4 linked regions of the Homo sapiens genome follow. The protein of the gene in region 2 purifies or fractionates together with the protein of the main gene of each other region. This does not show direct contact. Each region holds a gene or a part of one and is shown on either strand. Other genes may lie near its edges.

Region 1 (6,938 bases), on a different chromosome or scaffold from region 2:
CGGAAGGCAAAGGAGGAGCAAAGGCACGTCTTACATGGTAGCAGGCAAGAATGAGTGTGCAGAGGAGCTGCCTTTTATAAAACCATCAGATCTCGTGAGACTTATTTACTATCACAAGGAGAACAGCATGGGAAAAACCTGCCCTCATGATTCGATTACCTCCCACCAGGTCCCTTCCACAACATGTGGGGATTATGGTAGCTACAATTTAAGATGAGAATTGGGTGGGGCCATAGCGGAACCCTATCAACTGGGGACGAGGGAAATAGAATGTCCTGGCTCATGAGTTGAAGAGAGTCTAGCCTAGGAAAACCAACCTGCCGAACTACATACAGGGAGGCTTAAGGGCTGAGTAATGCCTGATCCCTACCTAGCTCCCTTTCAGTGCAATAAGGAAAATATTCTATTCAAGGATATCTTGTAGGTGAGAAAAAGAAGTCACTGTACTACGCTTCATGAGTACCATGGTTACTAAATCTGGGTAATGCCATTTTTTCCTGTAATTTTGCCCAATGATCAAAGTAACAAAATGCCAACTGTAGAAAATTTGGGAAGGCTAGAAATGAAAAAAGAAGCAGGAAACATTCTACTACTCATCACTGACTACAATTTTAGCACAGTTCTTCTTAGGGCTAAGCAATTTATCCCATAGGCTATGGTTCTAGAGATGGCAAACGTGCTTACAAACTGATCATTTGATGGTATTTCTTTTTCTTCAGAGCGGAGTCTCGCTCTGTTGCCCAGGCTGGAGTGCAGCGGCGCAATCTTGGCTCACTGCAGCCTCCGCCTCCTGGGTTCAAGCGATTCTCCTGCCTCAGCCTCCTGAGTAGCTGGGATTACAGGTGCCCACCACGCCCAGATAACTTTTGTATTTTTAGTAGAGACGGGGTTTCACCATGTTGGCCAGGATGGTCTCAAACTCCTGACCTCGCGATCTGCCTGCCTCGGCCTCCCAAAGTGCTGGGATTACAGGCGTGAGCCACCACGCCCAGCCAATTTGATGGTATTTCTTCATGAAGTTTACAGTTAGCAGCTTCTGACCATTTACATGGAGGCTGCATGATAACAGTCCCCTCATCAGGTATTAGAACTTAGTAGCAAACTGCTAAATAATATTCCATGGCTACCACCAAAGTCAGCACAGGTTTTTGGTTCAGAAATCTGAAAGAAGTCAGGCTGAGTCTAAAAGAGATCAGACTAAAAATAACAATATAACTGAATTTTCAAAATGCAAATCACATCATTTAATATCCACCGTGGCACTCACCTAGTTGACAAGAAGAAAGGGCTGTTGAGAATTCTAAGGCAAGCCATTTTTCTGGAACTTTTTCCCAGGGCTAACAGTTTAGAGAAGAGCCCCATTCATTTCCCCAACCCTCAAGACAGACCAGGTCTGAATGCCCAGTAAAGGCAGTTTATTAGAAAATCAGGTGGAGGATGGGCTATGAAGATTTACTGTTTTAATTCATGTTATTCCCTCTACCTACAACATCCTTCCCTACTTTCCCCCTGGAAACCTCCACCCATCTTCCAAGGTTCATTTCAATTATGGTCTCTGGGAAGTCTTTCCCTTTCCCCACCCCATGGAGCCTAACTACTTCAGGCCCAGTTACGCTTTGCTAGCACTTTGAATATTCTGTACCCTATATCATTGCATTATTTACTTGTCTTTCTCCCACCTGTAGATGGTGTATACTGTTAGAGGACAAGAACCTGCTTCTAGCCATCTTTGCGTCTCCAGGACCTGACTTGTGACCATTCAATAAGAGTTTGATAGATGGACAGACTAATGAATAGATGAAGATGATTAGAAGCCAAAATTTCTGAATCTTCCTAGCACCCAGAACATGGCTTAACATCAAGGAAATGCTCACTAAATACTGTCATAATGGAATGAATGGAACCGATGCCTAATTGAAAATCATTAGGCTGTAAACCATTTCCATGTTCCAATTTCTTCGTTTATAGAACAGAAATGATAGTGTAACCACCTGAAAATCCTTCACCTAGACTTCCAAAACCACACCCACCTCATCAATGAAGTCTGACTCTCTAGAAAGAAGCAAATGACTGAAATCATGGTCCTGTGCCTTGACCAAAATACCATTCGTCAGAACAAAAGAAGTAGGTCAGTGAAACGGCATTAGTATATCCTTCAACAGGCAAATAAGTGATAGTGTAGTTTGCTTTTGAAGTCGCTGTGAAAAGTTTTAGGTGAACATCACCTACACCACATTAAAAATGGAATCAAGTCATTTTCTTTAAGAAATGGAGTTTGAGATATGAGAATTCTTTTGGGCTTTTTCTACTTATTGGCCAATTATACACCCAGATATATTTCTGCAATATTTCAAAGATTCTAGTTCTAATTTGTATAATAAAAAAAATTAACAGCCTTTTCCAGACCACATGTTTCCAACAAGACCTTCAAAGGCCTCGCTCGCTATATAAAACTGGCTTTAAACAATTTCCTTTCCCAAAGAAGGAAATAAGATATTTCGGTTTTGTAAAAGAGGCAAAACCAGGTACAGGCCACCTTTCCTGCTGGAGAGCTGGCATAAGTGAGTGGATTCTTAATTACTATTTTACCTGCGGGGCATAATTACTTACGTGGAGTGAAATAAGGAGCCGTCCTTTTCTAAGTAGCCTTCATAGTGGACCAACATCAAATCCCCTCCTTTGGTCTTGCGATGGCAGATGAATGGCTTCTGGAGAACTTCAATTTTCACTTCTGGTTCAGGGATCAAAGCCCCAATCAAAGAAGTGACGAACAGAGTCAAGACCGCGTTCCACAAGAAAAGCCTCATGTTGCTGAAGCAAGGAAAGAAGTCCCTACAAAAGCAGCGAAAGGTCCCTCGACTTCATAGATTTAAGAACGTAGTTCAAGGCTTACGGACAAGGGCTTCAGACAAGTTCAGGACTCCCCCTTCTTAGAAGACGTGGCACATTTACCACCAACTCTTTTCTCAAGGGTCACGAACCTACCTTTAAAGAGTTAAGCCCAAATGCCGGCCTGACTGGCTCTTATAACGCGGCCGCCTGGGAATAGCAGCCTCCCATTGGCTATTGGTGCTGTCCTTCAGGCAGCTCTCAAGCCAATGACGCTGCAACGATGGAATTTACAGCCCGGTAGAGCCGGGCAGCTGCCAAGCGGCGGATCATCCCTTGTGGTCCTAGAGCCCGGTGGATTTCAGCATTCAACCAGCGTGGATTTTGGGAGAGGGGCGGGGCGCAGAGCCAACCGGAAACTCCTCCGGCTGATTTATCTCTGTGAAGAACCCTGCTGAGAGACGTAGGAAGAGTCCCGGGGCCCTATGAAATCTTCGGGGTTCCAGGAAAGACTCGTTTACTCTCGCCGTTGGAGAGCGGCCCCCCAAGATGCCACAATCCTAGGATTTTGCTATTGCTTATAAACTGTAAAGACTGACATACTGCTTGAGGGTTCACAAAGCGCGTTCCCGTTGCATGAACCTCACTACACCCAGTAAGGCAGGTTCTTTTTTCCCATTTAAAAGAGAAGTAAATTTACACCAGGAGATATTAACTGTCCTGCTTAAGGTTGTTTGGCCCCGAAGCAAATGAGCTCTGCCTTCAAACCAGGTCTGATTCATTCCACAGCACCACGTCATGTTATGGCTGCTAATAATTTATCCCTTAAGTTACCTTACAGGGTAAATAATGAGTTTCGACTTGCAGACTTCCGCTTTAAAGAAGAAATGGTAATCATGGTTACGAATTACACAGCCTCATCGTAGTTTACATTTTCTAGTTTTACATTTTTTGCCTAAGTTCAAAAGTAATGCATGTTCATTGAAGTCATTTTGGAAGAAATTGGAAAGCACTAAAGTAAGATTTCCAGATAATATTGGGGAGTCGAATCAAGTTGGAATTTCAGATACATAACGAATAATGGTTTTGCATTTTTATTTACTAAATCAGGCAACTTTAAAGAAAAAGAAAGCTCGCCGATACCACCACCAGCCGCAAACAATCCTCTTAATATTTTGGTGCATGCTTCTGTGACATATACTTAAAGCGATTTAAATCGTATTGTAGTCTTTTCTCACCTCCTCTTTCCACTTAATCTGTAGTTAACATTTTTTCTGGTCTAATAACCTTAACACAGTGCATATCCGCACTCTATGTGCATAGGAATCCCCCTGAAGATCTTGTTTAAAATGCAGATTTTGATCTGGAGGTCTGGGGTGGGTGCAAGATTCTGCATTTCTAACAAGCTCTTAGGTGATGTCAGTGCTCCGGGTCAGTAGATCAACACTTCCATAGTGAGACCTTAGAGTCTGGACAACATCTGTTTACACTGGCCTCATAGTATTCTACCCTGAAATTCCAATAATCTCTTTACGCCCTGTTATTGGTTACCTCAAGTGTGTGAGATCAATTAGGCAGCTTTGGAACAAGAATAGGGACTAGAACTCAGGAGGTATCGTGAGAGGTCACGTAGACCCTCAAACGGCGGGCACCATTTACAGTCAGAACTGCGCTCCACACTTGTCTCAGGGGCCTCCCTCCTCCCGTCGCCTAGTCCGCAGTCCGCGTCTCGGGACTCAATTTCCCTGCGGGCCGTTCCCGCAAACTCCGCCCCGCCGCCGCTGCCGCGAAATCCCGGAGTGGATTTTGGGAAGGGGCGCGCGAGCGGCGCCCTGGGCATGCGCGAGCGCGTCCCGGGCCCGGCGAGTCGAGGGTTCAGGTGGTGCGCCGTGGCGCCGCCTGCGACCGGCAGCTCGTTCGCCGCACTTTGGAGGCTTCGGCTGCCCCTCCGACCCACGTAGGGCCCGGACCCGGGCCTCCTTGTGAACAGCGTGCCGGCTTCGCCCCACGGGTTCACCGGCTGGCTGGGCTTCAAGCGCCGAGGCCGCCGCAGTGACCCCGCCCCCGGGCCGAGGATGTGAGGCGGGCCGGGCGTCCCCACACCGGGCCCGGGCGCCGGGAGTGGGCGTCTGGGCAGCGCCAGGCGATGGCCCTGCTGCTGGTGCTCCTCGCCTCTTGGGGCCTGGGGCAGTGAGGGGGCCGGCGGGCGTGGGCCGAGTGGCCGCGGGCGCCATGGAGGGGGTGCTGTACAAGTGGACCAACTATCTGAGCGGTGAGTGGCCGTGCCGGGCCGGGGGCGCGCCGGGGGCCGGTCCTTTGTCTGCGCGGCTGGAGGGCGGTGTCTGGACCCGTCTTAGGGAGGGGGTCACGGCCCTTTCCTGAGGCCAGCGCGGAGCGGGAGTATTTCCCAAAGCAGTTCTCTCACGGGACCGTGTCGCCGTGCAGGACGACACGGCCCTCTCTTGGGGTTGGTTAAGAGCTGTGGCTGCCCTTTCGCTTCAAGGAAGGCTACAAAGACTGAGATTTTGGGTGACTTGAAAGGCACGGTGCTCTTGATGTCAGCGGGAGGAAGGCGCAGACGCCCCGCCGTGGGGTTCTCTGGGAATCTCTTGAATTTTGGCGAAGGAACCGTACTCCCTTGGCTCGCAGCTAGGTTGGAAGGTTTCAAAAGAATGCCAGCAGTAACCTGGAATTCCACAGCGGAAAGATCCTTTATCAAAGTCCTCAGTGCAAACACTTTCCCTTTGTCACCTTCAGAGTCATCTGCGTGCACACCAGGGTGTCAAGAGTCCCAACTCCACAGTTTCAAAGCTCTGCACAAGGTTTTTTATTTTCTCGTTGAGCATTTCCTTTTGTTTTACAGACTCAGAAATTACCGTTAAATGAATGCAAATATTTGCAACTTTCTTGCCGTGCCTTACAGATTGGCTTTAAAATAGTCCCCGCCCTTTTTTTCTAGTTTGTGGAGGTAAAAGCTTCATATCTTGAGAAGGTTGTAACTGTTCTACAGCTGTGAAAATTATTCAGAACGATCATTTTTGTCATGTGTGCAACTAGTATTTAATACAAGCCTACTATATGCTGGAAACTGTGCTAGCCACTTTTTTGGAAGTAAACTTTTTATCACAGAAAATGAATTAGGTCTTTAAAATTTTAAAGGCAGTGTGTTTGAAAGCAGAAATGTTCCCAGTATCCCTTAGAGTGGGTGAGAGACGTTTTCTTTCTTTTGTGGGATAGTTTTTAAAAGGTTGTAGTATGGTAATGCGCCGGGTGTTTTAAGAATGGGTGTGTGTGGGAGGATCAGTTGGCATACATAGTAACTTCGAGGAGGTCACACAGCACAGCCAAAGGTGCCCCTATTGGGCGTACCCAGAATCTCTTCCCTTTGCTTAGTGTAATTAGCAGTGAGTTCACCTGTTTATTTTTTTTCTGTAATCATTAATAGAGACTAAATGAGAAGAGGTTTTTCTTGTTTGCGTCAAGGACCTTCAGTGATGTCTGCAATTAGATTAGATGAGAATAACTCAAAGCTAGGCTTTGGTTTGGTGGATGACAGAGGCTGATCAACACTGCTAACCTAAGGGGAGGAGGCTCGACCTGGCAGTTTTCCTTCTGAGGTCTCTCTAAGCTCTCAGATGCATATACTTGAGTAAAATTTAGTTCCTGATCCTTCACTCCTTTCCATTACACACACTTTTTTTCATTCATCTTCAACATTCTTCTTTTTTTCCCATTCTTCCCCATCCCCAACTTTTTTTGTTGTTTTGTGGGGTTTTTTCCCCCTCTTTTCCTTCTCCTTTCTATATAGAAAGTTTAGTCTCTTGATACAGTAACTATTTCCTGGTAGTGAAATGCTTTTGCTGTTGTTGTTGCTGACTGTCCTTGTGTATCCTTCAATAAAGCAGAACTCTCTAGAAGGATCTTTTGGAATCTTTGTTATTTGATTCCTATCTGTTCTGTTGGAAAAGAGTCTACTTTTTTCTTCCCAAAGTAAGAGAAGTTAATGCTGTGAGTGGTGCTAGGGTGGAAACCCTGAAGAAGAGGGCACTGGAGCCATTGCCAGAGACAGCTGTCTCTACGTGATGCTGCTTGTTCCCTTAGCCCACGTG
Region 2 (7,026 bases):
CAGTGGAATCTCTTATCCGTTAGTGTATTCTGTTTGAAGCCATGATTTTAATAATCAGAAAATACATGGGTCTTGTAGTCAGATAAACCCGTGTTCTCAGTATTCTGGCTCTGGTTGCTGTGAGACTTTGCCTAAATTGTGTCACATGCCTGTGTTTTAATTTCCTCACCTGTAAAATGTAGATAATACTTAAATTTTTTTAGCTTTAGTAGGGTATAATTGATAAATAGAAACTATATGTTTAAGGCATAGAACTTGATAGTTTGACATACATATACATTGAGAAATGATCACAGTTAAGCTAGTTAATATCATCACTTCACATAGGGTTTTTTTTTTTGTGGTGAAAGCACTAAAGATCTACTGTCTTAGCACATTTTAGGTATACTGTACACTTTGTTAACTATAGTCATCAGGCTGTACATTAGATTACCTTACTTAATTTGTAATAGAATTCTTAGTTGTCTTTGATGAAAATTCAGTAAAACTATCTCAAGCAAAACATATTTATAGGCTTATACAGTTTTTGAAATGAAGGAAAAACTGCAGATAGCAGGGCAGCTCAAAGGACCTTAAGGACTGGGGAGTCTTTTCCAGTAAAGACAAAACTTTGTTCATGGGGTTTTTCTGTTCTTGCAGGTTTTATTCTCTAATCTCAAATACAAAATCCTAGGAAAAGGCTGTCATTGGACTTGCCTGGGTTGCATGCCCGTTTGTGGACCAGTCAGTGTTACTTGGGATGGGGAACTCTGATTTGTTGACTCTGTGTCACTTGCACATTCCTGTGGCAGACAGAATAACATGATTGGTGTTGGAGAGGAGCGGTGCCTCAAAGGAGAAGGAATGCTGGATAGGCAGTGGCTGTTCTAGAAGGAGATACTCAAGCTCTTCAGTGTGGACAGACTGTATTAAGGTGTTTGACAGAAAGCAGTAGTTATTACCGGACATCACTAATTCATACCACTTTGTTGCATTTTAGTTACTCAGGATGATTAAATTATCATATTTCACTGATGAGTCCTGACATTGATTATCAAAATTTTACCTGTGGCTATACAGCAGTATTGGTAGTGGGGAATCAAGAAATTACTAAATGTTTCAGTGATACCGTTTCTGGACCCATCAAGCCCTTGGAGTCTCCTTATGTGTCTCCTTGTCACACAGGGAGGTAATTATTTCACTTTCTTTTTTAGATCTGGTTAGGCCATAGAGTTGTCATTTCTGCTGGATCCTGGGAATACTAGTGTTATATACTGAGAACTTAAAGAATAGAAAGTAAGAGTTTTGGAGTGACAGACTTCAGCTTTGCCACTTACTGTGTTGACCTTGAACTTGTTTTCGTCATCAGAGAGAACAGTATGATATTGTTTGTGAGAATTGAAATTAAATATTAAATAGCTGATACAGAGTACCTAGTATGGTGCCTGACACAACAACATTTTAGCTAATATCATTTTGGTAATTTAAATTTTAAGTTGGGATTTTTTTTTTCTTCCAATTTCTGACCTCTGGGAAAAATTCTGGTCATTGGGCTCCAGTTAAGACCTGTTAAATCAAAATGCCCTGGCAGTGGGGTCCAGGAATTTATGTTTTAGATATGTGCTCCAGCTTGTTATAAAACCAAAAATTGAGAATAGTTTGGGCACTATTTTCACACTACTGTTTTTAGTGAAGTCCCCCCCCCCCCGCCTTTTTTTTTTTTTTTTTGAGATGGAGTCTTGCTCTGTCACTCAGGCTGCAGTGCAGTGGTGCGATCTCAGCTCACTGCAAGCTCCGCCTCCCGGGTTCATGCCATTCTCCTGCCTCAGCCTCCCAAGTAGCTGGGACTACAGGTGCCTGCCACCATGCCCAGCTAATTTTTTGTATTTTTAGTAGAGACGGCGTTTCACCATGTTAGCCAGGATGGTCTCCATCTCCTGACCTTATGATCCGCCCACCTCGGCTTCCCAAAGTGCTGGGATTACAGGCATTAGCCACCGTGCCCAGCCCTTTTCCCCCCTTTTTTCTGCAGTTATGTTTGAAGAAGAGAGTTGAGTCAGTGAACAGTAAAGAAAGTTGAATTACTTACTAAAGCCACTTTAATCTCTGCTTTGTTATTGCAAAAACATCTTACATAAAACCAGTGCCCTATACTTTGTATTTTAGGTCATTGAAGGATCATAGTGGTATCTACGTTACATATTTGTGAAGGGTTATCTTGGTTTCTTTGGGCTGCTATAACAAAATACCATCGACTAGAGAGCTTAGAAACTACAGAAATTTATTTCTTACAGTTCTGGAGACTAGAAATCCAAGTCAAGGTACCAGCAGATTCAGTGTCTGATGAGGACCCATTTCCTGGTTCATAGATGGCGCCTTCTCCCTGTGTTCTCACATGGTAGAAGAGGCGAGGCAGGCCCCTTTTATAAGGCCCCCCACTAATCCCATTCATGGGGGCTCTGCTCTCATGACCTAATCATCTACCAAAAGGCCCTACCTCCTAACATCATGTTAGTAATTAGATTTCAACATATGAATTTTGAGGGGACACATTCAGACCATAGCAAATTCTTAGTCCAAACCTGACACATATTAATAAATACTAGTAATTAATTAATTAAAATATTCTGTGCTTTTGGAGGAGAAAGTTACTTGGTTGATGAAAAAATAATATGTACTTTTGATTTAGAAATCTTTTTTTTTTTATTTCTGAGACAAGGTTTCACTCTGTTACCCAAGCTGGAGTACAGTGGCCTGAGATCATGGCTCACTGCAGCCTTGACCTTCTGGGCTCAAGTGATCCTCCCACCTTAGCTTCCCGAGTAGCTGTGACTACAGGCGTGCACACCACACCTGGCTTTTTTTTTTTTTGAGACAGAGTCTCGCTCCATTGCCCAGGCTGGAGTGCAGTGGCATGATCTTGGCTCAGTGCAACCTCCGCCTCCCGGGTTCAAGCAGTTCTCCTGCCTCAGCCTCACAAGTAGCTGGGATTACAGGTGTGTGCCAACTGCCCAGCTTTTTTTGTTTTTTTCTTTTTGTATTTTTTAGTAGAGACGGGGTTTCACCGTGTTGGCCAGCCTGGTTGGTCTTGAACTCCTGACCTCAGGTGATCCACCTGCCTCGGCCTCCCAAAGTGCAGGCATGAGCCACCATACCCTGCCTAGAAAATCTTATTTTAAAGCAGTAAGATCATTATCTATATGCCATACCTATTGGAAGTACTTCCCCTACGTATAAACTTAAATTTTGTTCATAATGTGTGTACTGTATGAGGTTTATGATTTTTGTTTTCAGATTGGCTACTTTTTACTTTATCGTGTTTACCTTTATTACGCATAGGAAAGCTTTCTACCAGTTTTTTTCCCCTCCCTTTTTTAGATTTAAATCAATCCAGCTTTGTGGGGGAGCTGGGGGCTGGTAGAGGAGGTATATTGTGTGATGCTAACTTATTCTTTGAAATGGGTAGATGATTGTTTCAGTGTCATTTATATATAAGCAGTCCTTTTCCTACTTGCCAAGGATTAATGAAATTAGAAATTTAAGAAAAAGAAGATCTTACTTAGAGCTAGAAGTTAAGTTGTCTAGAAATTATTTATTTGTTTGTTTGTTTATTTATTTATTTATTTGAGACGCAGTCTCTGTCACCCAGACGCAGTCTCTGTCACCCAGACTGGAGCGCAGTGGCACTCTCTCGGCTCACTACAGCCTCCACCTTCTGGGTTCAAGCGATTCTTCTGCCTCAGTCTCCTGAGTAGCTGGGACTACAGGCGCATGCCACCACACCTTGCTGATTTTTTATTTTTAGTAGAGATAGGGTTTCCCCATGTTTGCCAGGCTGGTCCCGAACTCCTGACCTCAGGTGATCTGCCTGCCTCAGACTCCCAAAGTGCTGAGATTACAGGCGTGAGCCACTGCGCCCGACTTGGAAACAATTTAGTTGAAAATTAAATAGTAGTGATTTGGCAGTATCATGGGAATGGCCTCCTTTAATGTGTCCGTAAGCATCTTTGCTTTTCTTGCACAGTCACAGGGAGGGTATACATGCCTTGAAGTTGCATTACTGCTTTGCAGCAGCACTTCATTCATACTGTCAAATATTTATGCTGAATATGCCTAAATTTATCACTGACTTTTTTTTTTTTTTTTCAATTTGAGATGGAGTCTCGCTCTGTCACTTAGGCTGGAGTGCAGTGGCATGATCTCGGCTCAAGGCAAGCTCCGCCTCCCGGGTTCACGCCATTCTCCTGCCTCAGCCTCCCAAGTAGCTGGGACTACAGGCGCCTGCCACCACGCCCAGATAATTTTTTGTATTTTTAGTAGAGACAGGGTTTCACCGCACCGTGTTAGCCAGGATGGTCTCGATCTCCTGACCTTGTGATCCGCTTTTTTTTTTTTTTTTTTTTTTGAAACAGATGCTCTGTCGCCCAGGCGGGAGTGCAATGACGCGATCTCAGCTCACTTTAACCTCTGCCTCCTGAGTTCAAGCGATTCTCCTGCCTTAGCCTCCCAAGTAGCTGGGAGTACAGGTGCATGCCACCAAGCCTGGCTAATTTTTTGTGTTTTTAGTAGAGACAGGGTTTCACTGTGTTAGCCAGGATGGTCTCGATCTCCTGACTTTGTGATCCTTCTGCCTCGGCCTCCCAAAGTGCTGGGATTACAGGCGTGAGCCACTGCGCCTGGCCTAATTTTTGTATTTTTAGTAGAGATGAGGTTTCACCATGTTGGTCAGGCTCATCTCGTATCACTGACTCTTTGGTAAGTTTTGCATAGTTTTCACTGAAGCCTCCTATCTTGGACATTTTGAAATGAAAATTACTTTTTCTAGTTTAACTTAAAAGTACAACCAGGCATGGTGGCTCGTACCTGTAATCCTAGCAGGGAGGCAAAGGTGGGTGGATTGCTTGAACCCAGAAGTTCTAGACCAGCCTTGGCAAAACACTCTCTCAACAACAACAAAAATACAAAAAATTACCTGGGCATAGTGGTGTGCGCCTGTGGTCCCAGCTACTCCAGAGGTTGAGGTGGGAGGATTGCTTGAGCCCAGGAGGTTGAGGCTGCAATGAACCGTGTTCGCACCACTGAACTCCAGCCTGGGCGACTTGTGTGTGTGTGTGTTTGTTTGTATGTATGTATGTATGTATGTATGTATGTATGTATAAAAAACCTCCTGTAATTGGTTTTAAGTAAACTTCAAGTTTGACAAATGTTATTATGCCGAGTGTTGTTTTATCACATGTAAATACATGTAACCACCCCCAAAATTAGGATTAGGATACAGAATTGTTTCATCACCGCAAAGGTACCTTGTGCTACCCCTTGGTCAGTTGTAGACAAGCTACCTAGAGCTAGATGCTTTATGCCTTATTAAACTTGAGGATGAGCCATAGTAACATTTTATTTCAGTTTGATCCACAGTGAAAAAGTTCCCTTTTAGGACTTCAGTGCTTTTGAATGTCAGTATGGGTATAGTGAAGACATACCCACCTAACTCATATTAATGCTTTGCCTCATTAAAATTATTTAATAGAGTTACCTCTTTGAATGTTGGATGTTTAATATTCTGCTTTCAACAGTTTTAAGCAACTAATAGCCAGAACCTGGATAACTACCTTTACTTTTCCAGTATTTTCAAACTTTAATTTTTCTTTTTGGCCTAAAAGTGCAAGTGCTGTCTTCAGATGAGTTGCTTTTGCTAATTTATCTTATTGCTTCTAATAAGCCACTGATATGTCATAAGTTCTCAGTGTGAGTTTCTACTCTTTATCTAAATCTCCCAAACCAGTTTTTCAAAATGGGAGAATAGATATTTGGGAGTTAAAAAACTATAAACAAATTACTTCATTCCTTACAGCAATACCTAAGTGTTTTATGATTTTTTAATGGTATGCAGCATATGTATTCACTAGTGCATGTGTTCTTATATTTCCAGTAAAGAAAGAAAAACATCTTTCCTATATACTATGTGTTTTTTGACATTGAATTATGATCAATAAATTTACCTATAACTTGATTTTTCCTATCCAATTTTGACTGCATTAAACCTTTGTGAAGTAAATCATTACCCCCCAAAGAAACCCTGTATCCAGTAACAGTAACTCCCACCTTGCACTCCTCAGTCCCCCAGTCATGAGCAACCACGAGTCTACTTTCTGTCTGCCTGTTTGGGGCATTTTACATAAAGGAATCACACAGTATGTGGCCTTTTGAATCTGGCTTTCTTTTTGGCATAATATTTCAAGGTTTATCCACTGTAGCGTGTATCACTATATTTCATTCCTTTTTATGGACAAATAATAGTCCATTGTATGGATATACCACATTTTGCTCATTATTTGGTGGACATTTGAGTTCTTTCATACTTTTTGGCTATTATGAATAATGCTGCTCTGAGCATTCATGGACAGTTTTTCTGTGAACATGTTTTCAGTTCTCTTGAGTATATACTGAGGAATTTAATTGGTGAGTCATGGTTGCACAACTCTGAATATACGAAAAACCATTGAATTACACACTTTAAAAGGGAATTATGCTTGTATTATTCTGCTTTGCTTTGTAACAACCCCATACATCTAAACAGTTTACAATAGCAAGCATTTATTTCTTGCACACATTACATGTCTATGGCTATGACTTTGCTTGATATATCTTCTCATCCTGGGATCCAAGCTAAAGGAGCAATCCATACATTGGATATGCCTGGTCTTGTGGTAGTGGATGAGCAAGAAGCCAGATTGAACAACACAGTCCCATTTGAAGCTTCTACTTTGATGCCACAGTATCATGTCTTTTTATATTATTTTGGCCAAAGCAAGTCACTTGAATAAGGTCAAAGTCAATAAATGATGCAGGGATATATGCCTCCCTTATCAGGCAGGCAAGGCCCATGGTAATGAATAGGGTTGTATAATCCTTTTACAGTTAAATGTGGGGAGTGAATAACTGAACAGTAATACAGTCTACTACACAAATAGAGATTGCCAGTTAAGGAGAAAGAAAGACTAATTGATGCAAGAAGGTCTTTAAGGACTCCTGAGAAGAAGATGGGCA
Region 3 (6,987 bases), about 90 Mb from region 2:
TGGCCGGGTTCGGGAGGGGCCTGGCCCAATACACGGGCAAGGGTCACAGGCCAGCTACCTGAGGGGTGGCTCGGCGTACACACCTTGTCAAATTTCTTATGGCTGTAGACCTTGTTTTTGTTCATGAATGTTAGCAAGATCCAGTCGCACAGGAAGGAGCCCTGGGGCCAGCAGAGACCGGTGTGTAAGGGCCTGGTGGACCCCCCGCACCCGCTGGGACCCCAGAGAGGGTTCCTTACCACCCCGACGGAAGTCAGAGCTGTGGCCAGATTAATAATGGTGGGAATCAGGCTGAACTTCCCGGCCTGGGGAGAATGGGGGTCGTGGTCAGAATGTCTGACGGCGTCTGATGGGGCTTAAGGGAGGGGTGGGGCGTGAGGAGCTCAGACCCAGGCTAGCAGGGCTGGCCACCCACCCCCAGCAGGTGCAGGCACCTGTCCATGCACAATGACGTCAATGCGGATCCCGTAGGCCTTGATGAGCGTGCGGGTGGTGGTGCCATTGATCTTGTAGTATTTGGCAAACCTGCAATGGGAACGCCAGTGCCCACTCGTCCTCTGCACTCCAGGGCTGCCCCACAGGCATTGGGCCTCTCGGGACCCCACCACAGCTATGCCAGTGTGGACAGCGGTGTCCCAAGTACAGCACCTGAAGTTGTAGCCTGACGAGGCAGGCACGTGCTTGGGGTCAAGCCTCCGGAAGGAGTACTTGGGGTTGCACTCCGATGCAGGCAGGTCCAGGTCACAGTCCCAGTTGATAATGACCCCGATGACACCACCCTGCCAAGAAGGAGCCAGAGAAGGGGGTCAGGAGGGCACACGAGAGGCCCCTCGAGAGCCCGGGTCAGTCCCAGGCCAGGGAAGGGGGTCACAAGGGCACACGAGAGGCCCCTCGAGAGCCCGGGTCAGTCCCAGGCTGCATGTGAGGTGTGCACTGAGGGGCCCATGGGGCAGCTCAGGGGTACTGGTGGGCGTCCAGTGTCTGAGGCACAAGGGGTGCCAGCAGCCAGCCCCATGGCCAGTGTCAATAATTCAGCAAGCGCCACACCGGATGGGTTGCGCTGATCGCATTTCTTTTCCTCTGCCTGAGCGGGGCCAGCTGGTCAGGAGGGAGGAGGGACTGGTCCCCTGTACCCCAGGCCCTCTCTGTGCAGGTGGGAGCCCACCCTGGCCCCACCCTGCCTGCGCTTGCCCTGCCTTGTGTGCGAGCTCTGTGAAGCTCTCCCCAGCCTTCTCCACGATAAAGCCCAGCTTGAAGATGGGGCAGTAGAGGTCGGAGGCCTCGTGGAACGTGCAGCGCTTCAGGTACCCGTCTGTGCGGTCGGCGATGTTGCCCCTGAGGAGGCGGCAGGAGGCGAGACCTGCACCCCAAATACCCCATTCCCAGAAGGCAGCCCTCAGGCTGGGCCGTCACCACACCCCGCGGCTCTTACTTGGAGAAGTGGAATTTGGGGTAGTGGATGCTGTTCTTGATGAGGATGGTGAAATTTGGGGCCATCGTACCCAGAAATTGGCTGAGGAGGCACAGAAGGGTTGTTTAGTCCCCTCTTCCCGCAAAGCCCCCGCCTGGCATTGGCCCCCACCCCTCCCCAGATCTTGTCACTCCTGCCCCGCCCGTTTGGCCTCTGGTCAGGGGAAAAGGATCAGAGGGGAGGCTGGGCCCCAGGCCGGGGCGCAGGTGCACCTGACAGAGGCCCCATCTTCCACCGGGCACCAGCCGAACACCTCGCAGGTCTTGGAGGGCCCCTGGTAATAGGGCACACAGCGCCCAGTCCTCAGGCCTGGGAGGCAGAGGTCACTGAGGCATTAGCGGGGACGCAGCCCTGCCCCACCCGCCCAGCCCCAGCTGGCGCACACCGACCGTTTCCCAGCATGTCCAGCTCCCCAGCCACGCAGTCGGCGTCGGAGAGGCAGGTGGCGTTGTGGACCCTTATGCTCTAGGGTGGAGGCGGCCCAGTCAGGGACCCCGCAAGGGACAGCTGGCCCGCCTAGCTGAGGCGGGGTCCCCCAGCGCCGCGGGATCCCCTCACCTCGGGGCAGGTTCCCTGGGTCTGGGAGTGGGTGGCCTCGACCCTGGTGATGATGCTGAACACGCTGCCCCCCTGGGCTCAGAAAGAGGGGGCGGTCGGCCAGGCGGCAGCCGCTGCCCCCTCCGCCCACTAGGGTAGGGTGCACGGCGGGGCGGGGGGCAGGGGGCGGCCCGCACCTCGGGGGGCTTCACGTACTCCTCCACGTCCCACACTTTGTGCTCGGACGTGGTGATCCCCTTGACCTTGGTGATGATGGAGCTCTCGGGGCCCGTCTCGCTCTCCTGGTAGCTTTTCTGCACGATGAATACGTACCTGCGGGCAGGGGCGGCGCCGGCTCCGGAGGCGACCCTGGGAAGGCTGAGTCCCGCCCGCAGGCACGGCAGGGGCCCTCCCGCGACCCGGGTCCGCTCTGCGGGGCTCTTGGGGCCTGCCCCGCGCCCTCGGTCCCAGCCCCAGCCCCTGCCCCGCGCCCCCGGTCCCAGCCCCAGCCCCTGCCCCGCGCCCCTGGTCCCAGCCCCAGCCCCGCGCCTCCAGCCCAGCACCCCGAGTCCCAGCCCCTGCCCCACGCCCCCAGTCCCAGCCCCTGCCCCGCGCCCCCAATCCCAGCCCCTGCCCCGCGCCCCCGGTCCCAGCCCCAGCCCCTGCCCCGCGCCCCCGGTCCCAGCCCCAGCCCCAGCCCCGCGCCTCCAGCCCAGCGCCCCCAATCCCAGCCCCTCCCCTGCGCCCCGCACCCCGCGCCCCGCACCCCGCGCCCCGCGCACCACACGAAGTAGAGCAGGATGAGCAGCTGCACGGCGCGGTACAGGACCCCCAGGCGCCGGTTCCTCACCACGATCACCTTGGGCGTCTCGTAGTCCCAGAGGGCGGACCAGCAGCCCCGGGCCAGGCGCCGGGCGGTCGCCCCGGCGGGGTACTTGGGCTGGGCGGCGGCCATGGCGCGGGCGGCCCCCACCTCCAGGAAGGCGCTGCAGGGCTGAGGGTCGGCCCCGCTGCGCACCGAGAGCGGGGGGCGCGCGGCGGGCGGGTAGCTCGCGGCTCCGCCTCCGGGGTGCGGCCTCGAGCCCGCCCCGCCTCGCCCCGGCCCCGCCCCGCCCCGCAGGTGTCCCGGGAGTCCCGGGTGTCCCAGGTGGGGCTGGGAGCGGGGCCTCGCGGGGACAGAGCCGGGGGCGCGGCAGCCCAGCCCCAGCTCTTGGTCCAGGTGGGGGCCGAGCGCGGAACCGGCGGTCTCGAAGTTGGAGGGTCGGGATTCCCCGGGTGGGAACTTTTTCCGAGCTCGAGGAGAAAGACATGGGAAGTCCCGCCGGCCTCCGCGGCGCCCCCCACCCCGTCCAGGCCGGTTCCTGCCGCGGCTGCCGGGGCTTCGAGCGCAACCTGCACTCCCGCCTTTGCCAGCAGACGCCTCGCTTCCAGCTCCTGCCTCCGCCGCAGCTCCAGCCCTCGAGCTGGAGAGGGATCCACGGCCGATCCGTTTTCTTCTTTGCAAGCCAGAGTTTTCTTTCTTTCTTTCTTTCTTTTTTTTTTTTTTTGGTAACTTTTCGAACCTCCACCCCACCCACATTATTTTGAAGCAAATCCCAAGCATCACAGTTTTTCACAAAATAATTTTAAAATAGTTTATTATGATAAAATCAGCATAGCATGTAATTAACTATTTTAAAGTAAACAATTCAGTGACATTCACAACATTGTGCAACCACCACCGCCTCTGTTTCGTCCCCAAACACTTTCCCCACCCCAAAATAAAACTCCCATCCATTAAGCAGTCACGACCCGTTCCACACTCCTCCCATGCCCTGGCAACCACTGGTCGCTTTTCTGTCTCAGTGAATGGACTTGCCTGTTCTGGATATTTCATATCAAGGAAATGCAATATTTGTTTCTGGGTTAATGCCTTTTCTGTCTGGCTTCATTCACTGAGCATGTTTTCAAGGTTCATCCACATTGTAGCATGTGTCAGGGCATCACCCCTTCTTATGGCCAGGAGAAATGTCTAGGCTATCCAAAGAAGGAATTTAGATTGCTTTCAAACTAACTCTGTGAATAGTGCTGTTATAAACACTGGTGCATAAGTATTTGTTTGAACTGTTAAATTAACTCAATTAACAGGCTGCCTCTGTGCCTTGAGTTTCTAGGTAACAACAAACTGCAACCTAATGTACCACAGAAACAAGCTAAAAGCTTAACCTATGAGTATATTTTGGAACAAATAGCTGGGTCTCAGCCAGTCACAGGCTGCTAACTGATCTGATCATGCCATATAAGGCAAACATTTCAAGCAGTAACAAAATCAAGCTAATTGTGATTTTTTTTTTTTTGTATCTCACTTCTGTGTTCTATCTATAAAAACTTCCTGCCCACATTACAGAGTGGAGCTCTCGAACCTCCCCCATTGGTTCTGAGTGCTGCCCAATTCATGAGTTGTGTTTTGCTCAATTAAACTCTGTTGGCTGGGCACAGTGGCTCATACCTGTAATCCCAGCACTTTGGGAGGCCAACATGGGTGGATCACTTGAGATCAGGGGTTCGAGACCAGCCTGGCCAACATGGCGAAACCTCGTCTCCACTAAAAACACAAAAGTTAGCCAGGTGTTGTGGCATCTGTAATCTCAGCTACTCGGGAGGCTGAGGCAGGAGAATCACTGGAATCTGGGAGGTGGAGGTTGCAGTGAACTGAGATTGCACCACTGCACTCCAGCCTGCATGACAGAGGGAGACTCTGTCACACACACACACACACACACACACACACACACACACACACACAAACTCTTAAATTTAATTTGTCCAAAGTTTTTGTTTTAACAGTTTGGTGTCAGAAGTGGGATCTGAAGTAGACCTCCAGCCACCCCCTAGGAGCACTGAATGCTCAGTAGGGCCTGTGTGCCTGCTGATCTCTCAAAGCATCTAGAGTCATAGGTGAGTTCTCTCTGCTGGATTTGTGCTCTATGACCATGTGTTTTGAGCCCTCTACTTTGAGCAATTCTTTTTTTTTTTGAGATGGAGTCTCACTCTGTTGCCCAGGCTGGAGTGCGGTGGCGTGATCTCAGCTCACTGCAACCTCCGCCTCCCAGATTCAAGCAATTATCCTGTCTCAGCCTCCCAAGTAGCTGGGATTACAGGCACATGCCACCGCGCCCGGCTAATTTTTTTGTATTTTAGTGGAGACGGGGTTTCACTGTGTTGCCTGGGCTGGTCTCAAACTCCTGAGCTCAGGCAATCCACCTGCCTTGGCCTCCCAAAGTGCTGGGATTACAGGCATGAGCCACGGCGCCCGGCCTTGAGCAATTCTTAGACCGGAATGGGTCCAGGATTGAATTGGATCCAAAACTTAACTCTATTGTATCCAGTTAGAGGCCTTGAGTAGGTCCCTTTTGGCTTGGGTTTGTCTGAATCCAAGGAGTCTGCGTGCCGCCTTCTGGGACGTTTGCTAATTATGTGTGTAAGAACTATGGACCCAGAACTTGTGCACATTTTAGAAAAATCGGCTAACCCCAAACTCAAAAAGACCCCTCCAGATTCTTGGAACCGTACACCTTTCGGAGACCTTAAGGTGAAGCTAACCAGGGAAGTTTTCCCCAGAAGCAGACGGGATCCTAAATGTGGACAGCTTTTCCAAGATCATGGGTTGAGACTTCTCTGCCATCATGACAGCCTTAGCCTCCCCCTGGCCCCTTATTTCCTGCTGTCTGAATCTTTTCCTTTTCATTACAGGAAAATCCACAGCACCATAATGTGTGGATGGCGTCAGCTAAGGCTTACGCTCTAGGAAAAACCCAGAGTGGTAGTTGGGTTTGTGGGTTAATGTCAAAAGCCAGGAAACTACATCAATCCCTGTCATTTTTCACGATGACGGTCACTCTGGAACTCCCAGGGGAGAGTGGAGAGCGTCCCCATGTGTCCCAGGGGAGACTGGAGAGTGTCCCCATGTGTCCCAGGGAAGAGTGGAGAGAGTCCTCGTGTGTCCCAGGGAAGACTAGAGAGCGTCCCCGTGTGTCCCGGGGGAGAGTGGACAGCCCATATGTCCCAGGGGAGAGTATCCCCGTGTGTCCCAGGGAAGAGTGGAGAGCGTCCCCGTGTGTCCCGGGAGAGAATGGACAGTGTCCCCGTGTGTCCCAGGGGAGAGTGGACAGTGTCCCCCTGTGTCCCGGGGGAGAGTGGGGAGCGTCCCCATGTGTCCCAGGGAAGAGTGTTCCCGTCCCTGTGTCCCAGGGGAGAGTGGAGAGCATTCCCGTGTCCCAGGGGAGAGTGGGGAGTGTCCCCGTCCCTGTGTCCCTAGGAAGAGTGGACAAACACACTCTCCTTTATGTTCCAGACACCGCTGCTATCACTTTCATATACCCGCTGAAACGGTGTTCTGACCTTTCCAATTAATAATCCAAACACTGCTCATATGTAAAGCGTGCCTGAACGATGCCTTCAGAAGGTAGATGAGGCTCCAGGCATCACATACTCAAGACCTGGGAGTTCTCTCTGTGGGTGGGAGACACGGCATGTGTGATGTCACTGGATTGAGTCCAGTGAGGTCCCTTTCCATTAACTGTGGTTACACACCCTCACAGCACACTGTAAAGGGAAAAGCTTCATACCGGAGCTTTTCCGCTGGACCTGCTTCGGGAGCTGTACTGACATGTGGGTGAAAACGTGTCACTGACTTCTGCTCAGATGCCACCAGGTGGCGCCCTTTTCCAGCCCCCGAGAGCTTCTGCTGGGTCTGTGGAGAATCCGCTGTTGGGCCTCCTCACTGGTTTGAATCTTGCAATTTGGTCCGGCTCAGTCCTGCCTTCCAAGTAGCTTCCCCTGACAGTTCCCACCCAGGATACCTCCCATAATCGGAGGCCAAAGCAGTCAACAACCAAAATTAGCACCAGCCTTGAAATAAATGAAGTTAGTTTTCACTGAAGAAAGTTTCCATTAGAATTCTTGGTGGTGGTGAGGTGCTGGTTGTGTGGAATTCTAAC
Region 4 (7,026 bases), on a different chromosome or scaffold from region 2:
ATAGACAATACCAAGTGTACACAAAGATGTCGAAAAACTTCATATACTGCTGGTGAGAGTATAAGCTGGCATAACCATTTTGAAAAACTGTTTGGCAATATGTACTAAAGCTGAATATACTCATACTCTATTACCTAGCAATTCCACTCCTAGGTATACATCCAACAAAATGCCTAAACATATTCACTGAAAACGTGAATATAAATGTTCAGAGCAGCACCATTTATATCAGCCAAAACTAGAAATAACCCAAATAGCCATCAACAGTGAAAAATTACATTCATACAATAAATTATACAGCAATGAGAACATACCATACACGTTGCAACATGTATCTCACTGACACAAAGTTACACAAAACAAGCTATATACAAAACAGTACATGCTATATGATTCCATTTTATAAAGCACAATAACAGGCAAAACTAATATATGATGTTAGAAGCCAGAATAATGATTACTTTCGAGGGTGTAAGGCAGTGGGGAAAGAAACTCACGCTTGTTTCTACGGTTCCAGTGATCTATTTCTTATTCTGGTTGGCGATTACATGGGTGTTAAATTTGTAAACATTCATTAAGCTGTACATTTATAATTTGTGCATTTTCCTGTATATTCTTCAGTAAAAGTTACACTGCACTAAAAATTTACATAAGGTAAAAAAAATTTTAAGTCCCATTTTAAAAATGCTTTGCTAACTCTTACACGATAATGCTATGTAAATCAATTACTGGTTCTCTTCAAATGTTTGCATTTTAAAATAATTACTCTCAAGTTAACTGAAAGGTCATAGTCAATGCAGTTGGAGGATAGTATAGGAAGAGCATAGTATATGAAGCAGGAAAGTAAAAGGATCATCATGCTAGAATGAATTAAATACCTGTAGACCCATTTCACCTCGGGCTACTCTCCAAGCCACTGACCCAGATATTCTTCCCCCAAGTTCTCCAGGTTTAGGGGTTTTGGGAGATATAAATTCAACAAGCTCCACAATTATCCTCTGGAGAAGTTCTTTCCTTCTGTTTTCTGACAAAAACAGTTGCCTCTGTAATTCATGTTTTTTAAAAAAGTTGTTAAGATTAGGGGAATGTATAGGTCCATCTCTAAGCAAGAATATACTTAAAACACTTGCATTTTAAGAGGTCTTGAAACAAGTACTGAATTTTATTTTCAAACATATATTATTCAGAAAATAAAAAGGACACTGTGGAAAACTTAAATAATTTTATAAATTTTATGTTGGGAAATCATTTAACACCTATTTCCAACTCTCCATGAGCTCTACTGTCCTAGATTTATTTATAATGAAGGTAGCAACTTCTGTTTCTGGATATGATAGACTGGCTTGTGTCAGAATGTCTTACTGAGAAAAGCTAGAAAAGCTAGTGGAAACACACAAACAGAACACTCACATATAAACACCTGTTTGAGTGCAACAGAAAGCTGTAAAGGCAGCCAGAACTTGAGAAGTCAAGATTCCAAGAGAAGAAAAGAATTGAGGTGAAGGGCACATACTGCACCTCTTTTCCCTTCCAGTCATTTGTCAATTATTAAGTGGCATGAGAAGAGGCTGAGAAGCCAAGGACAAAATAGTGACTAAAGTGCTGGAAATCAAAGCAGAATTTTTAGCAGAATCACAGTGCTGGGGTAAAAATAAACTGAGGGTCAGAGTGTTCTAATGCAAGGGGATCTAGCAAATAATCCAGGTTTTCAGGTAGAGATCTCCGAAGGGCTACACATCAGGAGTAAGTGCAGATTCAAAATAGACTGAAACCTCACCTGGAATCATTATCACTGATTGGATTAATGTGCTCTGCCCTGTTCTAACTGCCTGCTACAGCAAAATTCACTGCTTATTTTTTAATTTATGAAAAAAACCCACATGTATAGAGTTAAAAATTTCAATACTATCAAAGGGGTATAAAACAAAAATTGAACCTTTCATCTTGGAACTCCAGTTCCTCCTCTCAGAAGTAGTCATTGTTAATAACTTCCTGTGCCTTGCTTCAGAAATTTCCTCACATGGACGTGTGTGTGTGTGTGTGTGTGTGTGTGTGTGTGTGTGTGTGTGTGTGTGTATGTACATACATAATACATAAATATGAGTCTGTGTCATATCCAAGGCACAGTTACACTGATAAATAAGACAACACATTTTTTGTCAGGTACTACCAATACTGAAATTTTGTTTCAAAGAACTTTGAAATGAGACAGTTTAATCCAAAATAACTCATAATATTTAAAATGAGTCCGCAAAATTTTCAATGAACAAAAAGAATATTTTTATTCTTTAATATTCAAAAAGAATATTAAAATATTCTTGTTTATAAAACAATGCTACTACTTTAAGAATTTCAATAGGCTAATAAACGGCTATTCTCGATTACATAAAAAATGTCAACTGTTCTTTCAAAAAAGATAGCCACACCATACCTGCTTATTAAGCCCATTAATAGTGTCTCGAAGTAATGCTTCTTTAACCTTAGTTCTTCTGGCAATCACCTCTTCATGTTTGCAGGAATATCGCCAAGTGACATCAACTACCTGAAACAAATAACAGAATACAAATACTTAACAAGATTACAACCATCAACCTTTACTTACTAAATACCTAGAATGTATGTAATTTTTAAATGCATTTTTTTGGAGACGAAGTCTCGCTCTGTTGTCCAGGCTAGAGTGCAGTGGCGTGATCTCAGCTCACTGCAGTCTCACTTCCCAGGGTCAAGAGATTCTCGTATCTCAGCCTCCTGAGTAGCTGGGACTATAGGCATGCACCATCACGCCTGGCTGATTTTTGTATTGTTTTAAGTAGAGATGGGGTTTCACCATGTTGGCTAGGCTGGTCTCGAACTCCTGACCTCAGGTGATCCACCCACCTTGGCCTCCCAAAGTGCTGGGATTATAAGCATGAGCCACCACGCCCAGCCTTAAATGCAATTTTTAGAATACTATCCTTTGTTTAAAATTTAAAAGTCATGGGGCCTGGTGCAGTGGCTCATGCCTGTAATCTCAGCACTTTGGGAGGCTGAGGTGAGCAGATCACCTGAGGTCAGGAGTTGGAGACCAGCCTGGCCAACATGGTGAAACCCCGTCTCTACTGAAAAAAAACAAACAAAAAAAATTAGCCAGGTGTGGTGGCATGTGCTTGTAATCCCAGTTACTCAGGAGGCTGAGGCAGGAGAATCGCTTGAACTTGGGAGGCAGAGGTTGCAGTGAGCTGGGATCATGCAACTGCACTCCAGCCTGGGCAAGAGGGTGAGACTGTCTCGAAAAATTAAAATAAAATAAAATAAAACGTAAAAGCCTATAAAATAAACGGAAGAGAATACGTCACTTATTCATTCCTAAACAGTTGATAGTTTAACCAGAAACGCTATGATAAAAAAGTGAAAATTTCAAAACATTACCTTTTTAAAATTTATCTGCAAAGCTGATTCCACAAAATTCAACAAATAAAAATTTTATCCATTTTTATTGTATTAGATTTATATTACAGAACTGATTTTTGATACAAGTGGAAAGACAATTCAATGGAGAAAAAATAATCTTTTCAATAAATGGTGCTAGAACAATTCATTATCCATATGTAAAAAAAAACTTCATACACCTTGGATCATATAAAAAAATTAACTCAAAATGGATTGCAGACATAAGCATAAAACCAAAAAAAACTTCTAAAACAAAACATAGGAGAAAATCATTGTGACCAAGGGCTAGGCAAAATTTCTTAAATATAACATCAAAAAGCACAATCCATAAAACAACCAATTGGTAAACTGAACGCCAGTTTCTTCTCTTCAAAAATCATTAAGAGCATAAAAAGACAAACTACAGATAGGGAGAAAAATCTTTGCAAAGCACATATCTGATAATGGACTTATATAAGAATATATAAAGAACTCTCAAAACCAAACAGTAAGAAAACACAATACCCAATTAAAAAAAATAAGCAAAGGGGACATATGGATGGTAAGCAAACACATAAAAAGATGCTCAGTATTATTTGTCATTAGGGAAGTACAAATAAAAACCATAATGAAATGCCACTACACACCTATTAAAGGGGATAAAATTAAAAAGTCAGATCATACTAAATGTTAGCAAGGACATGGAGAAACTGGAAACTTACATACTGCTTGCGAAAATGTAAAATGGCACAACCACGTTGGAAAATAGTTTAGTGGTTTCTTAAAAAGTTGTATGTATATCTACCATATAATGCAGCCATTCTACTCCTAGGCATTAAGCAAAGAGAAAAGGCAGCATATGCCCATATAAAGACTTGTGTGCCTGAGTGTTCATGGCAGCTTAATTTGAAATTGTGAAAAAAACTGGGAACTACCCAAATAGCCATCAACAGGTGAAATGGTAAACTATGGCACATCCATACAATGAATACTGATTTGCAGTGATGATTTCAGTGTATACAAATAAAACTTATCAAACTGTACAATTTAAATATATGCAGGTTATTGTATGTTAATTATACATTCATGAAGCTGTCATAAAAGAAAAAAATATATTTTACTTTTGGAAAAAAGTTTTTTTCTTTTATGCTCTACCTCATCTTTTGAAAATGCTATGACATAGGAAAGCTTCTTGCCCCATCCTATTTCATAAAGGAGTGGCTTGTCACAGACATCTTCACATGCATCACAGTGCAGCCACCGCTGCTGAGAAGGAGAATAGACTTCTGTCCAGACATGGTCTACTCAAGTAAGAGAAAAGAGAGCAATGGAAAAAAGACAATGAAATCAGAATGACTTTCAATAACTATACACAAACTCCTAAGAATCATAAAGTAATGCATAATATTCTGAATTTCAGTTAATAAGTGCATTTTGTGGCACACAGGATTTTAGAATACCTGTATTAATTTCTGTCTCTTTGAAATCCTTAAAAATGTTTTTCCAATCTCCTTTAACGTGGTCAGTTTTAGGCTTAATGTGCGCTGTAACTCTTAAGAAGGTAGACATATTAAAGAGCAGCATAAAAAATATCATCCTGAGTTTACTATCATGAAGGAGTTAATGCCACTTTTGAAACTACAGTCTCTCTCTCTGGACTTTAAGGCCCAGAACCAGCAGGAAGTCTAATAGAATCTCTGGTCAATACATGCTTTATATTTGATTTTAAGAGAACACTAACTATTAATGGAAGGTTTCATTTAATTCTTTAGAAAATGGAAACACAAGGAAAACAACTTTTTAACATGTAGACCACACAAGTTATTTCTAAATAGGGACAACACAAATATCACATGACTTTTATTATTTCTGTATACTGTGCTTTAAGTTTATAGTTTACTAAATTTTTTACAGTAATCCCTATAGCAATGAAGATTTCTATGGTACATTATTACATGTTTTTATCCATATATAAACAGCATCACTATAAATGCCACGGTAAATTGCTAATAAAAGAAACAAGACCTAGTGTTTGATAGATCAATAGGGTGTTTACAGTTTACAATAATCCACTGCATATTTCATAATAGCTAGAAGAGAGTAATTCAAATGTTTCCAGCATAAAGACAAATATTTAAGATCTCAGACATCCCAATAATACTGATTTGCTCTGTAGAATTTATATAAATGCATTACAAGTATCCCCCAAATATGTACATCTATTATGCATCAATAAAAAAATAAAGGGGAAAAAAAGGAATATTTATAGTGCAAAGCACCAGGCACAGTGCTAGGTGTTTTACAAAACTCTTGTGATCCCTTCAAAAAACCTGGAAGGTTGGTATTATTACTGTTTTACACAAGGCAAATGGAAGGTCAGACTGACAAGGCCAAAAAGTAACAGAGAATCATGGGCTCAGAATGTAAACCCAAACCTGCAAGCCTGCAAAGCCCTACTACCCTCTGCTCATTCCACATTCTGTACCTGTGTAATCCCAAACATAGCGAGCTTCAAACCCTACAGCTCGGCAGCACAGTGTAAAACAATTGGCCCACTCGCCACACCGTCCACATCTTGTTTCCAAAAGTTTCTCAGGGTTATTATATCTGGTTTAAAAAGAAAAAAAACCTTAATTATCAAAATCAAGATTTTTAAGAGAATTTACATTACCTCTATGCTAAACAGAAATGTTTAATTTTTTTTTTTTTTTTGAGACGGAGTCTTGCTCTGTCACCCAGGCTGGAGTGCAGTGGCGCAATCTCGGCTCACTGCAACCTCCGCCTCCCAGGTTCAAGTGATTCTCCTGCCTCAGCCTCCAGAGTATCTGTGACTACAGGTGCATGCCACCAGGTCTGGCTAATTTTGTTTGTATTTTCAGTAGAGACGGGGTTTCACCATGTTAGCCAGGATGGTCTCGATCTCCTGACCTCGTGATTCGCCCGCCTCAGCCTCCCAAAGTGCTGAGATTACAGGTGTGAGCCACTGCGCCCGGCCTTTAATTTGTTTTTAAATATTTATTTAGAAATCTAGAATATATGAGGCACAATGTTAGAACATTTGGTGAAAAATAATTAAACGGTAGTACTGCTTTCAAGGTGTTCACAATCCTGAGGAAAGGGATGAACACAAATAATTTAAATATATGGCAGAATGTGATCAAACAATACAACAGGTCAGATTAGTGATCAAACAATACAACAGGTCAGAAAGTGGCTGGTGAGGAGAGCTTTTATTTGATCTGTGTTTTGAATAATGTAAGATTTGGAGAAGCAAATTCTCTAGGCAATTTGCCTAAAGCATTAGCACTAAAGTGGTATAGCTAGCTCACTGTATTTAAAAGGTAAACAACTTTAACAAATTACTCAACAAAAATTTTAGCTTAGTTTAATTCAATTTTATCTAAAATATTATCTTTCTTTCTAATAATCATTTTGATTAAAATTTTACTCTTTTGAAGTATTTAAAGGTGCCTGCTAATTTGGAAGTTGTTTTTTGGGATCTATTTGTAACATTCTTTTCAGAAGTTACTCCAATTATAAAATTACCAGACAATTCAAGAACACTAAATTTTGCATTTTGTGTTGAGATGGGTTTTGAACTGATAGAGCTGAGCAGGA

Evidence for each region.
Region 1: the proteins of GXYLT1 (region 2) and FKBP14 purify together in Homo sapiens (affinity purification with mass spectrometry; 2 studies listed by BioGRID and IntAct, with this or other methods). This does not show direct contact.
Region 3: the proteins of GXYLT1 (region 2) and P2RX2 purify together in Homo sapiens (affinity purification with mass spectrometry; 2 studies listed by BioGRID and IntAct, with this or other methods). This does not show direct contact.
Region 4: the proteins of GXYLT1 (region 2) and NGLY1 purify together in Homo sapiens (co-immunoprecipitation; 2 studies listed by BioGRID and IntAct, with this or other methods). This does not show direct contact.

Annotation. Positions count from the first base shown.
Region 1 is NC_000007.14:30,023,702-30,030,639, forward strand, and holds the start of FKBP14 (peptidyl-prolyl cis-trans isomerase FKBP14 precursor), read right to left. Parts: upstream 3,002-6,938; 5' UTR 2,808-3,001; coding exon 2,611-2,807; exon of another isoform or gene 1,686-2,610; intron 1-1,685. Other genes in the region: PLEKHA8 (pleckstrin homology domain-containing family A member 8), read left to right, coding at 5,062-5,101. UniProt on the Homo sapiens protein: PPIase which accelerates the folding of proteins during protein synthesis. Has a preference for substrates containing 4-hydroxylproline modifications, including type III collagen. May also target type VI and type X collagens.
Region 2 is NC_000012.12:42,134,862-42,141,887, reverse strand, and holds part of GXYLT1 (glucoside xylosyltransferase 1), read left to right. Parts: intron 1-7,026. UniProt on the Homo sapiens protein: Glycosyltransferase which elongates the O-linked glucose attached to EGF-like repeats in the extracellular domain of Notch proteins by catalyzing the addition of xylose.
Region 3 is NC_000012.12:132,614,793-132,621,779, reverse strand, and holds the start of P2RX2 (P2X purinoceptor 2), read right to left. Parts: upstream 3,005-6,987; 5' UTR 2,964-3,004; coding exon 2,791-2,963; intron 2,342-2,790; coding exon 2,206-2,341; intron 2,102-2,205; coding exon 2,030-2,101; intron 1,937-2,029; coding exon 1,861-1,936; intron 1,781-1,860; coding exon 1,684-1,780; intron 1,514-1,683; coding exon 1,433-1,513; intron 1,336-1,432; coding exon 1,197-1,335; coding exon of another isoform or gene 1,192-1,196; intron 780-1,191; coding exon 649-779; coding exon of another isoform or gene 526-648; coding exon 435-525; coding exon of another isoform or gene 416-434; intron 306-415; coding exon 240-305; coding exon of another isoform or gene 162-239; coding exon 1-161. UniProt on the Homo sapiens protein: ATP-gated nonselective transmembrane cation channel permeable to potassium, sodium and calcium.
Region 4 is NC_000003.12:25,731,441-25,738,466, forward strand, and holds part of NGLY1 (peptide-N(4)-(N-acetyl-beta-glucosaminyl)asparagine amidase), read right to left. Parts: intron 6,016-7,026; coding exon 5,894-6,015; intron 4,961-5,893; coding exon of another isoform or gene 4,869-4,960; intron 4,710-4,868; coding exon 4,564-4,709; intron 2,543-4,563; coding exon 2,432-2,542; intron 1,044-2,431; coding exon 879-1,043; intron 1-878. UniProt on the Homo sapiens protein: Specifically deglycosylates the denatured form of N-linked glycoproteins in the cytoplasm and assists their proteasome-mediated degradation. Cleaves the beta-aspartyl-glucosamine (GlcNAc) of the glycan and the amide side chain of Asn, converting Asn to Asp.